2 linked regions of the Homo sapiens genome follow. The protein of the gene in region 2 purifies or fractionates together with the protein of the main gene of each other region. This does not show direct contact. Each region holds a gene or a part of one and is shown on either strand. Other genes may lie near its edges.

Evidence for each region.
Region 1: the proteins of CDCA4 (region 2) and PPP2R1A purify together in Homo sapiens (affinity purification with mass spectrometry; 5 studies listed by BioGRID and IntAct, with this or other methods). This does not show direct contact.

Annotation. Positions count from the first base shown.
Region 1 is NC_000019.10:52,185,384-52,193,064, forward strand, and holds the start of PPP2R1A (serine/threonine-protein phosphatase 2A 65 kDa regulatory subunit A alpha isoform), read left to right. Parts: upstream 1-4,668; 5' UTR 4,669-4,713; coding exon 4,714-4,791; intron 4,792-7,681. UniProt on the Homo sapiens protein: The PR65 subunit of protein phosphatase 2A serves as a scaffolding molecule to coordinate the assembly of the catalytic subunit and a variable regulatory B subunit.
Region 2 is NC_000014.9:105,018,074-105,025,800, forward strand, and holds the start of CDCA4 (cell division cycle-associated protein 4), read right to left. Parts: upstream 3,011-7,727; 5' UTR 2,926-3,010; intron 1-2,925. UniProt on the Homo sapiens protein: May participate in the regulation of cell proliferation through the E2F/RB pathway. May be involved in molecular regulation of hematopoietic stem cells and progenitor cell lineage commitment and differentiation.

The sequences.
Region 1 (7,681 bases), on a different chromosome or scaffold from region 2:
GAGCTGTGGTCATGCCACTGCACTCCAGCCTGGGTGACATAGTGAGACCCTATGGCAGGATCTCACCATTTTTTCCTCCAAAAAAAAAAAATTGTTAAAAAAAATTCCAGTATTGTGCAGTAGCTGGATGTTTCAAATTTTAAAAAGAAGAAAATAAAAAATAAAATAAGAGTCTTGATAGAACTTGCTTCTCCCTTCCACCATGTGAGAAGGACACAGCTAGATGGCACCATCTACGAATCAGAAAGTGGACCCTCACCAGACGCTAAATTGCTGGTGCCTTGATCTCAGACTTCCTGGCCTCCCAAACTGTGAGAAATAAGTTTCTGTTGTTTATAAGCTACCCAGTTTATGGTATTTTGTTACAGCAGCCTGAACTAAGACACGTTGCAACTTCCACTTTCCATTCAACATATATCGTCCCCATTTCTCTTACTCCATACATACAGATCTAAGTGGTTTTTATGAAAGTTCTTTAATAATCCATAGTTGGTATGTCCGATATTTTATGCAATAATCTATCAAATAGTGGACTTTCCTATTTTACATATGTAGAAACTGAGGATCAGGGCCGGGCACAGTGGCTCACACCTGTAATCCCAGCACTTTGGGAGGCCAAGGCGGATCACTTGAGCCCAGGAGTTCGAGACCAGCCTAGGCAACATAGTGAGACCCCCGTCTGTACATTTTTAAAATTAAAAAAAAAAAAGGCCAGGTGTGATGGCTCACGCCTGTAATCCCAGCACTTTGGGAGGCCAAGGCGCACGGATCACCTGAGGTCAGGAGTTTGAGACCAGCCTGACCAACATGGAGAAACCCCATGTCTACTGATAATACAAAAATTAGCTGGGCATGGTGGCGCATGCCTGTAATCACAGCTACTGGGGAAGTTGAGGCACGAGAATCGCTTGAACCTGGGAGGCAGAGGTTGCGGTGAGCTGAGATCGCGCCATTGCACTCCAGCCTGGGCAACAAGAGTGAAGCTCCATCTCAAAAAAAAAAAAGGAAACTGAGGATTAGGAAAGCCCAAGACCCAACATCAGGAATGTCTCCTAGTCCCAGAATCTCTTGCATTTGTACACCCCACCCCACTATGAACTCAGGCATAGTAAAATAATCCAAAATCCCCCATCAAATATTTTATATATATACATATATATGTGTGTGTATATATATATATATACACATATATATGTGTGTGTGTGTGTATGTATATATATATATATATATATATATATATATATATATATATATACATACACATATATATGTATTTCTATTTTATTTTAATTTTTTTTGAGACAGGGTCTTGGCTGTTGCCCAGGCTAGAGTGTAGTGGTGTGATCATGGCTCACTGCAGCCTCGATCTCTTGGGCTCAAGTGATCCTCTTGCCTCTGCCTCCTGAGTACTACAGGGATATACCTGATGTACTACAGGCATGTGCCACCACTCCCGGCTAAACTTTCTTTCTTTTTTGCAGTGACAGGGGTCTTGCTATGTTACCCAGGCTGGTCTTTACCTCCTGGCTTCAAGCAATCCTTCCTCCTTGGACTCTCAAAGTGTTCAGATTACAAGCATGAGCCACCACCACACCTGGATTGTATCATTATATTAAAGCTGAGTTTTAGTCAAGCAAGCCTTTGGAGTCAGACTGCCCAGGTTCAAATTCCAGCACCCGATGAGTGGGGTGGCTCCTGTTTGTAACCCCAGCACTTTGGGAAGCCAAGGCAGGTGGATCATTTGAACCCAGGAGTTTGAGACGAGCCTGGGCAACACAGTGAGACCCCAGGGGTCTCTACAAAAATTAAAAAATTACCCGGGCATGGTCACACATGCCTTTAGTCTTAGCTACCGGGCATTGGGGGGGCCGAGGTGAGAGGACCACTTGAGCCTGGGAGATCAAGACTGCACTGAGCACAGAACAGATTGCGTCCCTACACTCCCAGCCTAGGCAACAAGGCAAGACCCTGTCTCAAACAAACAAACAAATTCCAGCACCACTATTACCATCTATGAGAACTTGGACAAATTCCTAAAGTTCTCTATGCCTCGGTTTCCTCATCCATTAAATTAGGATGATGCTGCTACTTTACATATATCATAGAGTTATTGTCAGGGTTAAATGAATTAATTTACTGAATACACTTTACTGTAGCTATTATCACTGGCATTGATCTGTATAGGTATTGATTTGTATAGGTATTGATCTGTATAGGTATTGATCTGTATAGGTATTGATCTGTATAGGTATTGATTTGTATAGGTATTTGTTAAATACTTATTAAAGTTTGCAGTTTTGTTTTGCATTTTGGAATCCATAATTTGTTTTTATTTTGTTTCTGAGATTTATAATGCCTCATTTAAGCCTCTGAAAATTCCTAGGCCCTAAGCACTTCAAAGGCCACCAGCCCAACATCCCAAGCAGCCTGACACCAAGACAGGCACGCATAGCTAAAAAGATCCCTAGCCTCAGAGACCTTGGGGCTGAGAGGAGTCCTGGGAATAGGGAGGGCTGGGACTGAAATATTCAACCCCATCCCCACTTTTATGAGCAGCAGTTTCCTAACTGCAGTGGGTAAGGGTATTTGAAATAGATGCTGGGCCGGGCACGGTGGCTCACACCTGTAATCCCAGCGCTCTGGGAAGTCCAAGTGGGCGGATCACCTGAGGTCAGGAGTTCGAGACCAAAGACAGCCAACACGGTGAAACCCCGTCTCTACTAAAAATACAAAATTAGCCGGGCGTGGTGGCTCATGCCTGTAAATTCCAGCTACTCCGGAGGCTGAGGCAGAAGAATCGCTTGAACCCGAGAGGTGGAGGTTGCAGTGAGCAGAGATTGAGCCACTGCACTTCAGCCGGGGCAACAAGAGCGAAACTCCGCCTCAAAAAAAAGGCCGGGTGCGGTGGCTCACACCTGTAATCCCAGCACTTTGGGAAGCCAAGGCAGGCAGATCACCCTGAGGTCAGGAGTTTGAGACCAGCCTGGCCCAAAGTGGTGAAACCCCGTCTCTACTAAAAATACAAAAATTAACCGGGCGTTGTGGTAGGCGCCTGTAATCCCAGGTACTCTGGAGGCTGAGACAGGATAATTGTTTGAACCCAGGAGACAGAGGCTGTAGTATGCCGAGATCGGGCCCCTGCATTCTAGCCTGGGCAACAGAGCGAGACTCCGTCTCAAAAAAAAAAAAAGAAAAAGAAAAAGAAGAAAAAAGAAATAGATGCTGTGGGTATTCAGATCTGTCAGAGTGCTAGCTCAGCCTAGCCCTTCAAGTAGCAGAATAAAGGAGGAAAGAGCATCCCAGGCCTTCCCATCCCCATTCAACTCCCTCAGTTAGAGTGGTCCTAAGATTGCGGTGGGGGGGTAGGGCTGTGTTGAAGAGGTTAAAAACAGAGATTAGTCAGATCCAATCCTGCTCCCACTCTATGGAGGAAACAAATTCGAATACATAGTCACAGCCCAGGCTCTGGGATTGAGAGACAGAGAGAGAGATTGGATTGGAGAGAGAGAGAGAGAGAGATGGGATTGGAGAGACAGAGAGATAGATGGGACTGGAGAGACAGAGAGAGGGGTTCTGTGGCTCTGGAAGCCTAGAGAACAGAGCCTGAAGACAGAGAGGAAAGGGAGTAAAGGGGAGGCATTTATGCAGAGATCTCAGAAGTGAATATGAAAGGCACCCCTAGCAGAACGCACAGCTTGGGCAAGGAGGCTTGCTGGCATGAAAACGCAAGAAGTGCTCAGGCAGCTGTAATTCTCCAGGACATCAGATAAAAGGTAAAAAACAGATGGGAGACGCGCCTAGACAGGGTATTGAATACCAGCCCGAGGGGCTTGGGTTTCATCCAAACAGCAAGGCAACTGAGCTCAACACAGTGAGACTCGGTCTCCACAAACATTTTTTTAAAAATTGGCCGGGCCTAGCGGCGCGCGCCGATAGTCCCAGCTATTTCTGCAGGCTGAGGCGAGAGGATCATTTGAGCTCGGGGAGGTCCAGGCGGCAGTGAGCCAAGATCCTGCCACTGCACTACAGTCTGGGCAACAGAGCGAGACCCTGTCTTTAAAAAAGTAAAAAAAAAAAAAAAAAAAAAAGAAAGAAAAAGAAAAAAGAGAGAAGGGCAAGTCGCTCCCTTCTCTGGGCCTTGGCATAAATCAAGCACAAATCAAAGTCTCACTCCCTCCTCCTGCCGCGCAACGGCGCGGAGAGCCAGCCAGCCAGCCAGCGGAACCACGGCCTGGTAACCCAAAACCTGCACACCCTCCAGCTCCCCACAGGACGTCACGTATTACCACCGACGCACGCGCAGAAGCCTTCCCGGGGACTCAAGAAAGGGCAGGCTTAGCCTCCTCCCCATGTCGCCCCTCATTGGCTAGAAACTACTGCTCGTCTCGGTCGTTGTTAGCAGCGACCAGGGCGGGTACAATCTTGGTCGCTAGGACACGGCTAACTTCCGCTTTCTTCCCCCTCTCCTAGGCTCAAACTAGTCAAATCTTGTTCACTCGACCAATGGCAAATCGGAAGTGGGCGGGACTTCACAAGTCCGGACCAAAGAAACGCGAGCTTAGCCCTGGGTAGCGCGGCCAATGGCCGTGGAGCAGCCCCTGTAAACTGGCTCGGGCGCCCCCACGCCCGCCCTTCCTTCTTCTCCCAGCATTGCCCCCCCCACGTTTCAGCACAGCGCTGGCCGCAGTCTGACAGGAAAGGGACGGAGCCAAGATGGCGGCGGCCGACGGCGACGACTCGCTGTACCCCATCGCGGTGCTCATAGACGAACTCCGCAATGAGGACGTTCAGGTCCGGAGGCTACGGGGGACTTGGGGAAGACGCGGAGGGGTACCTGGGGGCACGGGCGGCCCTCGCGGAGAAGACTCAGCGTTCGCTGGGAGTGGCGGAAGGGGGCGACGGCCAATCAGCGTGCGTCTCTTATCTCCCCGGTTGCCCGGACTCCTTGAGACGGCGCTCCCGATTGGGTGTCGGCCCAGTGGAGGGCGGGGGCCAGCGCTAGCCTCGAGGGTCCCGGGCCTGCCCTGTGCGCGCGGCGGTCCGCGGTCCTGGGAGGTTGTGGCCAGGGCTGGGGTCTGCGGACTGGGTCTGGGAGAGAGGAGGACTCCGTGATTGGCGGCGGCCTCTGAATGGCCTCTTGGGGATGTGGGGCGCGCATGACTTGCTCCAAGTAGGGGAGGGCCGCCGGGTGGGTCGGGACCTGGGAAGGTTTTTTTGTTTTCTGGGTTTCGACTGCTGGGCCAAGTGGGGACCGAGAGGCGAAGGCCTGCCATCCTAATTCCTGCTCTTCCTCCGCCTCTCATTTTGGTTTAGGTGTCCTAAGAGGACGGGGACGCAAAAACACCCCCCCACCAAAGGTGGGGACTAGCCAAGTTTAGGAGCGAATTAGGTTGTAGAAACCCGCCTCCCCATCTCCCCGGATCCTCCCATTGACCAGGATAGGGGTTGAGGGATTTGCTAAGCAGATGAACATTTATTTATTTCTTTTTTTTGAGACAGTCTCTGTGTCGCCCAGGCTGGGGCTGGGGAGCAGTGGCGCGATCTCGGCTCAGTGCAACCTCTGCATACCGGGTTCAAACCATCCTCGCCCCTCAGCTCCCTAATTAGCTGCGATTACCGGCGCGAGCCACCACGCCCGACTAATTTTTGTATTTTTAGCAGAGACGGGGTTTCACCATGTTGGCCAGGCTTGGTCGGGAACTCTTGACCTCAAGCGATCCACCCGCCTCGGCCTCCCAAAGTGTTGGAATTACAGGCGTGAGCCACCGCGCCCAGCCCGGATGAACATTCCTGGTTATGGGATGAGGTGACCCAAGGCTCTGAGCCGGGCTGGTGTGGGATTGAGAACAGTTAGAACTGCAAGTCCACCTCCCACCTGCTGTGTGACCTTGTGCAAATTACTTCACCGCTTTGGGTCTCTGTGTTCCATAAAATATGGGCTAATTGTAGTCCTGGTCTTGCTGGAGGGACTTGTGAGGGACTGAACGAATTATGACACAAATAAAAAGTAGAATGGTGTCAGGCCTGTTGTAAGGGCTCGATAAATATTAGCTGTAATTATTGGGAGTGGTGATTAAAGAGGTCCCATCCTCCCTTTAGGTCTGTTTTCCCATTTATAAAATTGGACAAGGTGCACTGGGTAACCTGCCAAACGTGGGTCTCGCCTCCTAGGTTCCTGGTATATCACTGTTTCTGGTGGCATACAGGTTGTGGTTGTATTCCCGGCCCTTCCACTTGTTACTGATTGACAAGGGCAAGTTAGTTAATCTCTCTAGGCCTGTTTCCTCTTCTCTTTAATGGGGTTAATTACCTAGTTCATAGGGCGGTTGTATGAATTCTTTTGTTCAGTAAATATATGCCATGTATGAGATATGATGCTGGGGATATAGTGGAGACACCAGTTGCTATACAGGATCCAGATGTGAAACAGGTCAGCAGAGCTGAATAGATGAGTGTTTGAAAAGTGATGGGAAGGAAACAAATAGGATGTAGTGGTAGCGAATCCATATTGAATTGGGCCTCTATTCTGTGCAGGGCGCTGTTCTAAGCACTGGTATATAGCAGGAACAAGACAGAAAAAACTCTAGGCCTTGGGGAGTTTATTTTGTAGTGAGGAGAGACAGACAATAAACAGAGTATACTGGGGATAAGCATTAGGGAGACAAATAAAAATAAGAGAGATGGGGTATATATAGGGCATGCAGTTTTAAAGTGTGGTCAGGGGAGGCCTTGTTGAGATCCTGTTTGAGAACACGCCTGAAAGCAGAGGGCACAGCAAGTACAAAGTGGGGTGGGGCAGATCCATTTTAAGAAGGCCAATCAGGCAAGGCCCCTCTGAGGATGCAGAGTTTGAGAAGAGATTGAAAGAAGGTGGGGGAGAGCCTCCCAGGAAGAGGGAACAGATATGTAATGGCCTTTTTTTTTTTTTCTTCTTTTTTTGAGACGGAGTCTTGTTGCTCTGTTTCCCAGGCTGGAGTGCACTGACGCGATCTTTGCTCACTGCAACCTCCACCTCCCGGGTTCAAGCAATTCTCCTGCCTCAGCCTCTTGAGTAGCTGGGACTACAGACGCAGGCCACCACGCCTGGCTGATTTTTGTGTGTGTGTTTTTAGAAGAGACTGGGTTTCCCGGTGTTGGCCAGGCTGGTCTCAGACTCCTGATCTCAGGTGATCCTCCTGCCTCGGCCTCCGAAAGTGCTGGAATTACAGGCGTGAGCCACTATGCCCGGCCAGTTTTTTGTTTTTTTTAACTCCAGGATCACTTCCTTCAGCTATCTATCCTCCCATCTTTTCATTCATCCATCCATCCACTAACCAGCAGACATTTGTAGGGAGATGTCTTTGTGCCAGGATCAGAGCTAGGCAGCTTACCGGTTTATTCTAAAGAATATTGCAAAGGATACAGATGAAGACACATGCAGGGTGAGGTGTGGGGGAAGTTGTGTGGAGCTTCCATGCCCTCCCTAGGCATTCCACCCCCCAGGAACCGCGAGGTGTTCATCTGTCTGGAAGCTCCTATGGCTGCTTTTGTGCTACAGCCCAGAGTTGCATGGTTGTAACAGAGATGGCCGCAAAGCTTCAAATATTTGCTGTCTAACCCTTTGCAGGGAAAAAATTGCTGACCTCTGACTTAAACCATCTGCGTAACAAATTATTGGGTGCTTGCTCTATGTTAGGTACAG
Region 2 (7,727 bases):
GGGTAGCCACCATCAGGGTGGGAAATGCTACAAGGGGCCAGAAAGAATCCTCCAGGATGATGGAGATTCTCTCTCGCCCCTTGTAGGACTTGTGTAACCCAGGGACCTGCATAGATGTGCCTGGGTTACACAAGTTCTACAAGGGACGAGAGATAATCCCCATCATCCTCCACTGCATCTCATCCCATGCACAGATCCCATTCTGGTACCAGGAGAATATCCCTGTTCAGTCACTTCAAATCATTCCTCTCCAATGTTCCAAATCTCCAGCAGCTGTTAATTCTGTGTTGTACCCAATATTTTAAAATGCTGACAAGTTTATTACTATTAATACAAAAAAGAGTAAAGCTCACAGGTGCTTTTTACAGTCACGTGACCCCAAAGAGCTGTCACCCAGAACATGTGTTCAGGAGTGAAGAGGATAAGGTTGGGCCCGGAGAAGCTGGCCTGTGAGGATCACCCTGAATTGGGTTATATCTGTGTTTGGGACAAAGTCAGCAAGAGCATGGTCTTAACCAGCCCCGAGGGATGCCTGGGCTGGGCCCAGCTCCCTGAGGGCCTCCTGTGTGACTTCTGCCTGAGGCTGCTTAACTCCTTCTAATATGGAATGAGAAAGGGCCCTATACCATACCGGTGGGGCTGTGGAGCCTAGCTCCCTGCTCAATTTTTTTTTTTTTTTTTAAGACAGAGTCTCATTCTGTCCCCCAGGCTGGAGTGCAGTGATGCAATCTCAGCTCACTGCAACCTCCACCTCCCAGGTTCAAGCGATTCTCCTACCTCAGCCTCCCGAGTAGCTAGGACTACAGGCACGCGCCACCACACCCGGCTAATTTTTGTATTTTTTGTAGAGACGGGGTTTCACCATGTTGGCCAGGCTGATCTCGAACTCCTGAACTCAGGCAATCCGCCCATCTCGGCCTCCCAAAGTGCTGGATTACAGGCGTGAGCCACCATGCCTGGCCCCCTGCTCAGTTTTGAAGCTCTTTCTACACATCTAGTTAAATGCCTAAAATCCCACCAACTCCACAGGTTGTTACCGGGACAGCCAAGCCCTCAGTCAACTCCCAGCACTGCCCTCAGGCTTCTAAACCAAGCACCGACCAGACAGAGAAAAACGAAGAGGGCCAGACGGACTGAGGACATGTCCGACATGGCAGGTGGAACAGCCAACAGGCCACTAGGGACAGAGCAACCTAGGCCCACCGAGGCAGAGGCCAGCAGGGAGCAGCCCCGCAGTGCTGCTCAGGCAAGCAGAGTACAGCTCGGGGACTGGTCCTTCACTACAGCAGCAGTGGCCACACCTTCGTGGCTGAGCAATACCACGAGGCTGGCTGAAAACGCAGATTCCCAGATTCTGATCAGTAGGGCTGGGACGGTTGGGGACAGACTCAACTCTGACCTAACCTGTCACCTTCACAGCTGGACTTGCAGCCACTTCAAAGTTTCGGGTTTTTAAGCAAATCATCAACAATTTCCATTCCTCACACATCAGATAAGCTTTGAAATACTTTATCGGAAAAACAGGGAGAAGAGGAGCAAGGTCTGCAGTCTTGAGTACTGAGTGGGAGCTCCACCTTCCACTACAAGTCTCCTGGAGGCTGTTCATGAACAATTACTGTTATGTTAATTTCAGGTATTTGGTTTTTTTTGTTTTTTGAGACGGAGTCTCGCTCTGTCGCCCAGGCTGGAGTGCAATGGCACGATCTCGGCTGAGACCTCTGCCTTTCTGGTTCAAGCGATTCTCCTGCCTCAGCCTCCCACATAGCTAGGATTATGATTACAGGCATGCGCCATCACGCCCAGCTAATTTTTGTATTTTTAGTACAGACGGGGTTTCACCACGTTGGCCAGCTAGTCTCGAACTCGGGACCTCAGGAGATCCACCCGCCTAGGCCTCCTCTCAAAGTGCTGGGAGGTGTGAGCTACCGCGCCCAGCCAATTGCAGGTACTTTTGTTACTTGGAACGAAACACACTCCTTCTTTTCCCTGAAAACATGTTCCAGTGGCAAGTTGAGGGAAACTTCCTAGCCCCTTTTCCAAGATACAGCCTACTACTCTTCCTAGAAAAGGGGTGTAACTCACTTTGTATTCTGGATTTCCACCCTAATTATAAAACACGGTGACACTTGAAAATAGAGTGGTTGTACGTAGAAAGTTGATAAAACGTAAGTTTTGTGAACAGGCAATGTTTTTCTGTGGCTCGCTTTGAGAGAACGGTTATCTGGGTCCCGCCGTCCCGTGCGTCCCACACGAAGGCCACAGGAGAAGCGAGGCAGCGGAGACCCTCTATTCCAGCAAGCTGTCGGAGCCTTTGCCACGACGATCCTGTTTGCGGGGCGAGAAGCGTCTGAAGACGCGGAGGGAGGCTTGCGTCTGACTTCTGCAAGTGTCTCGGGGACTTTCCCTAGTCCCACCTCGCACCGCCGGAGGAGCCCAGGGAAGACGGCGCTGGCCGACCCGCCCGGGGTCTGGGCCTCCTCCCACATCCGCGGCCCTCTCCGCGGCCGGGCTCCGACAGAGGGGGCTGCGGCGCGCCTGGCGTTCCCTCCGCTGCAACTAGAGCCGAGGTACGGGAAACGCCGCTGCGTACCCCAGCCGGGCCCTCGTGAAGCGGCTCCCGCGTGGGGCCGCCCGCAGGCCTCGGCAAAGCCCCAGCTCCGCGCTCCGCAAGGAACGCAGACGGCGGCCCGGGCCCCTCTGTTCCCCGGGCCCCCTCAGCAGCGGCCACCCCGCGGGGGAACCAGCGCCCAGGAGGGCGGCGAGGGCGCCGCGGCAGCCCCAGCGGTGGTCCCGGGCGCCGCCTCCGCCCCGGACCCAGCGCCAGGAGCCACAGACTCCGCGCACCGCCCCCAGGCTCCTCCGCGCCCTGCAGCACAAAAGTGCACGCCGCCGTAGACGCCCTAGCGGTCCGCCGGGCCCGCTCACCTGACCCGCGAGGCCGCCCGCCGGGTCCTCTGCTCAGCCACCGCCACCGCCGCTGCCGCCAGCTTCCCGCCGCTGAGGAAGGAGCGCCCGACGGCGCGGGGCGGGGCGAGCGACCGCCACTCGGCGTCCACAAAGGGTCGACGCTGCGCTCTCCGCGCGCTACGCCCGCTGATTGGCCACTCGCGGGCCGGGGGCGGGGCCTCTTGTTCAAACCCACGCGGGCGGGGCATCTGTGGCGCGTCTTCCCGCGCTGCGGCGACGGCCGTTGGGGCTCGCGCGCGCCCTCGGTTGCCCCGCCCCCGCCCCTGCGCCCGGCCCCGCCACGCCCACGCCCCGCCGGCTCCCAGGTCTCCCCGCGCCCAGTCCGGCCCCGCCCCGCCAGCTCCCAGGTCTCCGCGCGTCTGGCCCTGAACTGAACGCGCCTGCGCCTGGGGCCCACGTGGGGCCCTCGGGCGGGCGTGGCGGGGCAAACAGAGGTTTGGACTCTCTCGCTTCTGCCTGGCTCAACTTCTCCGCCGAGGCATCCGTGCCGGGGTCGGGAGGAGCCGGGCACGGCAATTCCCGGGCGGTCTGGGCTCCGAGGTCTATCCAAGCCTCTCCAGAGACCGGGGTTATCTCCAAAGGCTTCCTAGGTTTACACGTAAGAAATGTAACGTGAAAGTTCAAAGCAGGGGACACGTGTTTTAAATCTCTTAGTGGAAAAGGTTTTAAATAGGATGCGAGAACCTGCAATCATTGACTTAAGTAATACCCTGAGCGCCTGCAGCAGGCCCGGCAGGCGTGGCTGCAGCTGAGAGCCAAGTGCTGGAAGTTGGGGGGGAATCCTCAGATCAATCCGCAGGTGCGGATGCGCCAAGGTCGGTGGTAAATGCTGAAATGCTGTCGGGAAACCTGGGAGTGACGTGGGGGCGCTGCTCACATAGGTCTCTAGGATAAGGAGCGTCTTAAAGCACCAAAAGGAAGAGTGGACGAGAATTCAGGAGAGGAATGGCTGGGGCAAAGCCCGAGGCAGGGGCAGGAGGCAGGAGCACGTCTCAGTGCAGTGAGAAAGAACCCTGTGATCTCGTGGGAAAGTTTTAAGTGTGAGGGGTGGAGGGACTTTTGGGCTATTCTGGGAGTGGGATGGAGACTACTGGCATGGTCAGCAGAGAAGGAACTGGAATCTGAATTGTGCTTGAAAAGAATCACTGTTCTTATTTAAAAAAAAAAAAAAGGGGGTCTCTTTCGCCCAGGCTGGACAACAGTGGCGTGATTATGGCTCACTGTATCCTCGAACTCTTGTGCTCGAGTGATTCTCACGCCTCAGCCTCCCAAGTAGCTGGGACTACAGAAGTGTGCCACTACACCAAGCTAACTTTTTTTTTTTTTTTGGTAATTTTGTAGAGACAGGGTATTGTCTTGTTACACAGGCTGGTCTCCAACTCCTGGCCTTAAGTGATCCTCCTACCTTGGCCTCCCAAAGTTCTGGGATTACAGGCATGAGGCACCACAACCACCAAGAATCACTGTTGGTAATAGATTTGGAGGAGGTGGCAGGAAGGCTGGAAGTAGAAAATCCCATTAGGTTACTGCCCAGGTAAAAGAAAATGGGACTTGATAAAGGTGACTACCTGAGAATTTAAAGTTTATGCATGTCAAAGTGAAAAGACAAATGGGGAAAAAAGTTTTTCCTGGCTGTATCCCACATAAAGGTTAAATTCCTTAATATACAGATATTCTGCAAATGCAAATGAAATCTAGATCACCAAAGAAAAGTGGTTTGGAAATAGTGGCACCCACCTGTAATCCCAGCTACTCAGGAGGCTGGGGTGAGAGAATCCCTTGAGCCCAGGAGTTGGAGGCTGCAGTGAACTATGATTGCACCACTGCACTCCAGCCTGGGCAGCAGAGTGAGACCCCATCTCTTAAAAAAAGAAAAGAAAAGTGGGCGTAGAATATAAACACAGTTCAGAGCAAAGAAAATACAAATGCTCCTATACAGGCGAATAGATGCTCAGCCCCAATCAGAACAAGAGCAGTGGAAATTAAAGCTATGCTGGAGTGCTGTTTGCCACGGGTCAAATTGGCAAAGATCTAAAATAATGTCTGGAGTAAGATAATATCTTCCAGAGCATATTAGTCTATTCTCATGCTGCTAATAAAGACATACCCGAGACTGGGTAATTTATAAAGAAAAAGAGGTTTAATGGACTCGCAATCATGGCAGGAGACAAAGGAAAAGCGAAGGGACGTCTTACACGGCGGCAGGCAAGAGAGCGTGTGCAGGGAGCTCCCCTTTATAAAACCGTCAGATCTCAGGAAATGTATTCACTATCCGGAGAACAGAACAGGAAAGCCTGCCCCATGATTCAGTTACCTCCTGCCGGGTCCCTCCCACGACATGGGAATTATAGGAGCTACAATTCAAGATGAGATTTGGTGTGATATTTTGACATGTATATACAAAGTATAATGATCCATCAAGGTAGTTAGCATATCCATCACCTCAAACATCATTTCTTTTGTGTTGGGAACATTCAAAATCCTCTCCTCTACCTATTAGAAAATATGCAGTAAGTTACTGTTAACTGTAGTCATAAAATATTAACAGGCTTGCTAGGACATAGGACCAGAAAAAACATAGAAGTCTATGGTTACACCAAGATTGGAGTCATATTTTTCAGTAACTAATGTATTCAGGAAAATTGATGACAAGGAGAACTAGAATCCGTTAAAAAAAAGACTCAAATTGAAGAAAGAGCATCAGTCTTACACAGAGTCTTCCAAATGATAAAGGGGAACTCTTCTTACCAATTTGTTCTACAGGGCTAACAAATTTGATACTAAAACTCGAAAGGGACATGATGGGAGAAAACACACATGGTATTCTCTCTCATGAACATTGTTTAAAATTCCAAACCACATATTAGCAAATCAGATCCAATGATAATGTAAAAAAGGTAACTCATCACAACCAAGTTGGGTGTACTCCAGGAACTGGAGTACAGTTGATTTCACATTGCAAGGTCAACATGATTCATGACAATAGAATGAAGGAGAAAAAAAGTATGAAAATCTCAGTGTAGAAGCATCTAGTAAAATTCAACACCCCTTCATGGTATAATCTTTAGCAAACTAAATATACAAGTACAAAGTTAGGGACAGCCCCAAGACCACCCTCAAGTTTGAAATTCATTAGAAGGACTCAGAGAATTCCCTAGAAGCTATTGTACTCGTGGTTATGGTTCATTACCATGAAAAGGCTCATTAAAATTAACCAAGAGAAGAGGTGCATGGGGCAGCGGCCAGGAGAGGCCATGCGGAGACTCCAGTTGTTCTCTTAGTGGAGTCATAGTGGTATTGCTGGTGAAAATGTGTCACTGGGCCTGAGTCCAGAGTTCATTTACTTCCCAAATGAATATATACATTTATTCTATTGCCAGGCAAAATCCCAGGATATTTTTGAAACCTCACAAAATGCTATTAAAAATCTAGAGAAATGGCCGGGCACAGTGGCTCATGCCTGTAATCCCAGCACTTTGGGAGGCTGAGGTGGGCGGGTTACCTGAGTTCAGGAGTTCGAGACCAGCCTGGCCAACATGGTGAAACCCCGTCTCTACTAAAAATACAAAAATTAGCCAGGCGTGGTGGCATGTACCCGTAATCCCGCTACTCGGGAGGCTGAGGCAGGAGAATTGCTGGAACACAGGAGGCGGAGGTTGCAGTGAGCTGAGATTGCACCACTGCATTCCAGCCTGGGCGACAGAGTGAGACTCTGTCTCAAAAAATAAATAAATAAACATAAAAAATAAAATAAAAATCTAGAGAAATACATGTGGAAGGCTACCCTATAGATAAAGTAAGAAAAAAGAAAAGTATTAAGGAGGACACCCACCTCTATATCAGTTACCTTTTGCTGTGTGACACACTTTCCCAAACTTAGTAGATTCAAAAGGCAGCCTTTTGTTTGCTGGCATTTCTGCGGTTGGCATTTCGGCTGGGGTCACAGCATCCTGTGTCTCATGAGGCATCAGCTGAGCTCACTCAAGTGTTTGGGTCTTGGCAGAGATGACTGACTCATCTCTGCTCTGTCATCCTCCGGAAGGCCAGCCCAGGCAGGCACCAATACAGGGGCTCTTTTTATACTTCCCTCTGCTCTGCTCATATGTGCCAATGTCCAGGTGGCCAAACCACATGTGGCCAAGCCTAGGGCCAGTGTGGACACGAGAAGACAATTCCCTGGAGGACATTATTATTGTTACTATTATTTTGAGACAGAATCTCACTCTGTCGCCCAGGCTGGAGTGCAATGGTGTGATGCTCTCAACTCACTGCAACCTCTGCCTCCTGAGTTCAAGCGATTCTCCTGCCTCAGCCTCCCTAGTAGCTGGGATTACAGGCGCCCACCACCATACCTGGCTAATTTTTGTATTTTTAGTAGAGACAAGGTTTCACCATGTTGGCGAGGCTGGTCTCGAACTCCTGACGTCAAGTGATCTGCCCGCCTTAGCCTCCCAAAGTGCTGGGATTACAGGCTTGAGCCACTGCACCCAGCCTATTATCGTTATTGTTTTGAGACAAGGTCTTGCTCTGTGGCCCAGGCTGAAGTGCAGTGGTGCTCACTGCAGCCTTGACCTCCCCCAGCTGAAGTGATTCTCTCGCCTCAGCCTCCCAAGTAGCTTGGGCTACTGGCACACACCACCACACCTAACCAAACATTACTGTAGTCTACTAATTCTTACCACATACTTGAACATACTGTAAGTAAACTTAAATATATACTTAGTAATGACAGATATTGGTGTATACTGTAGTAAAATTAA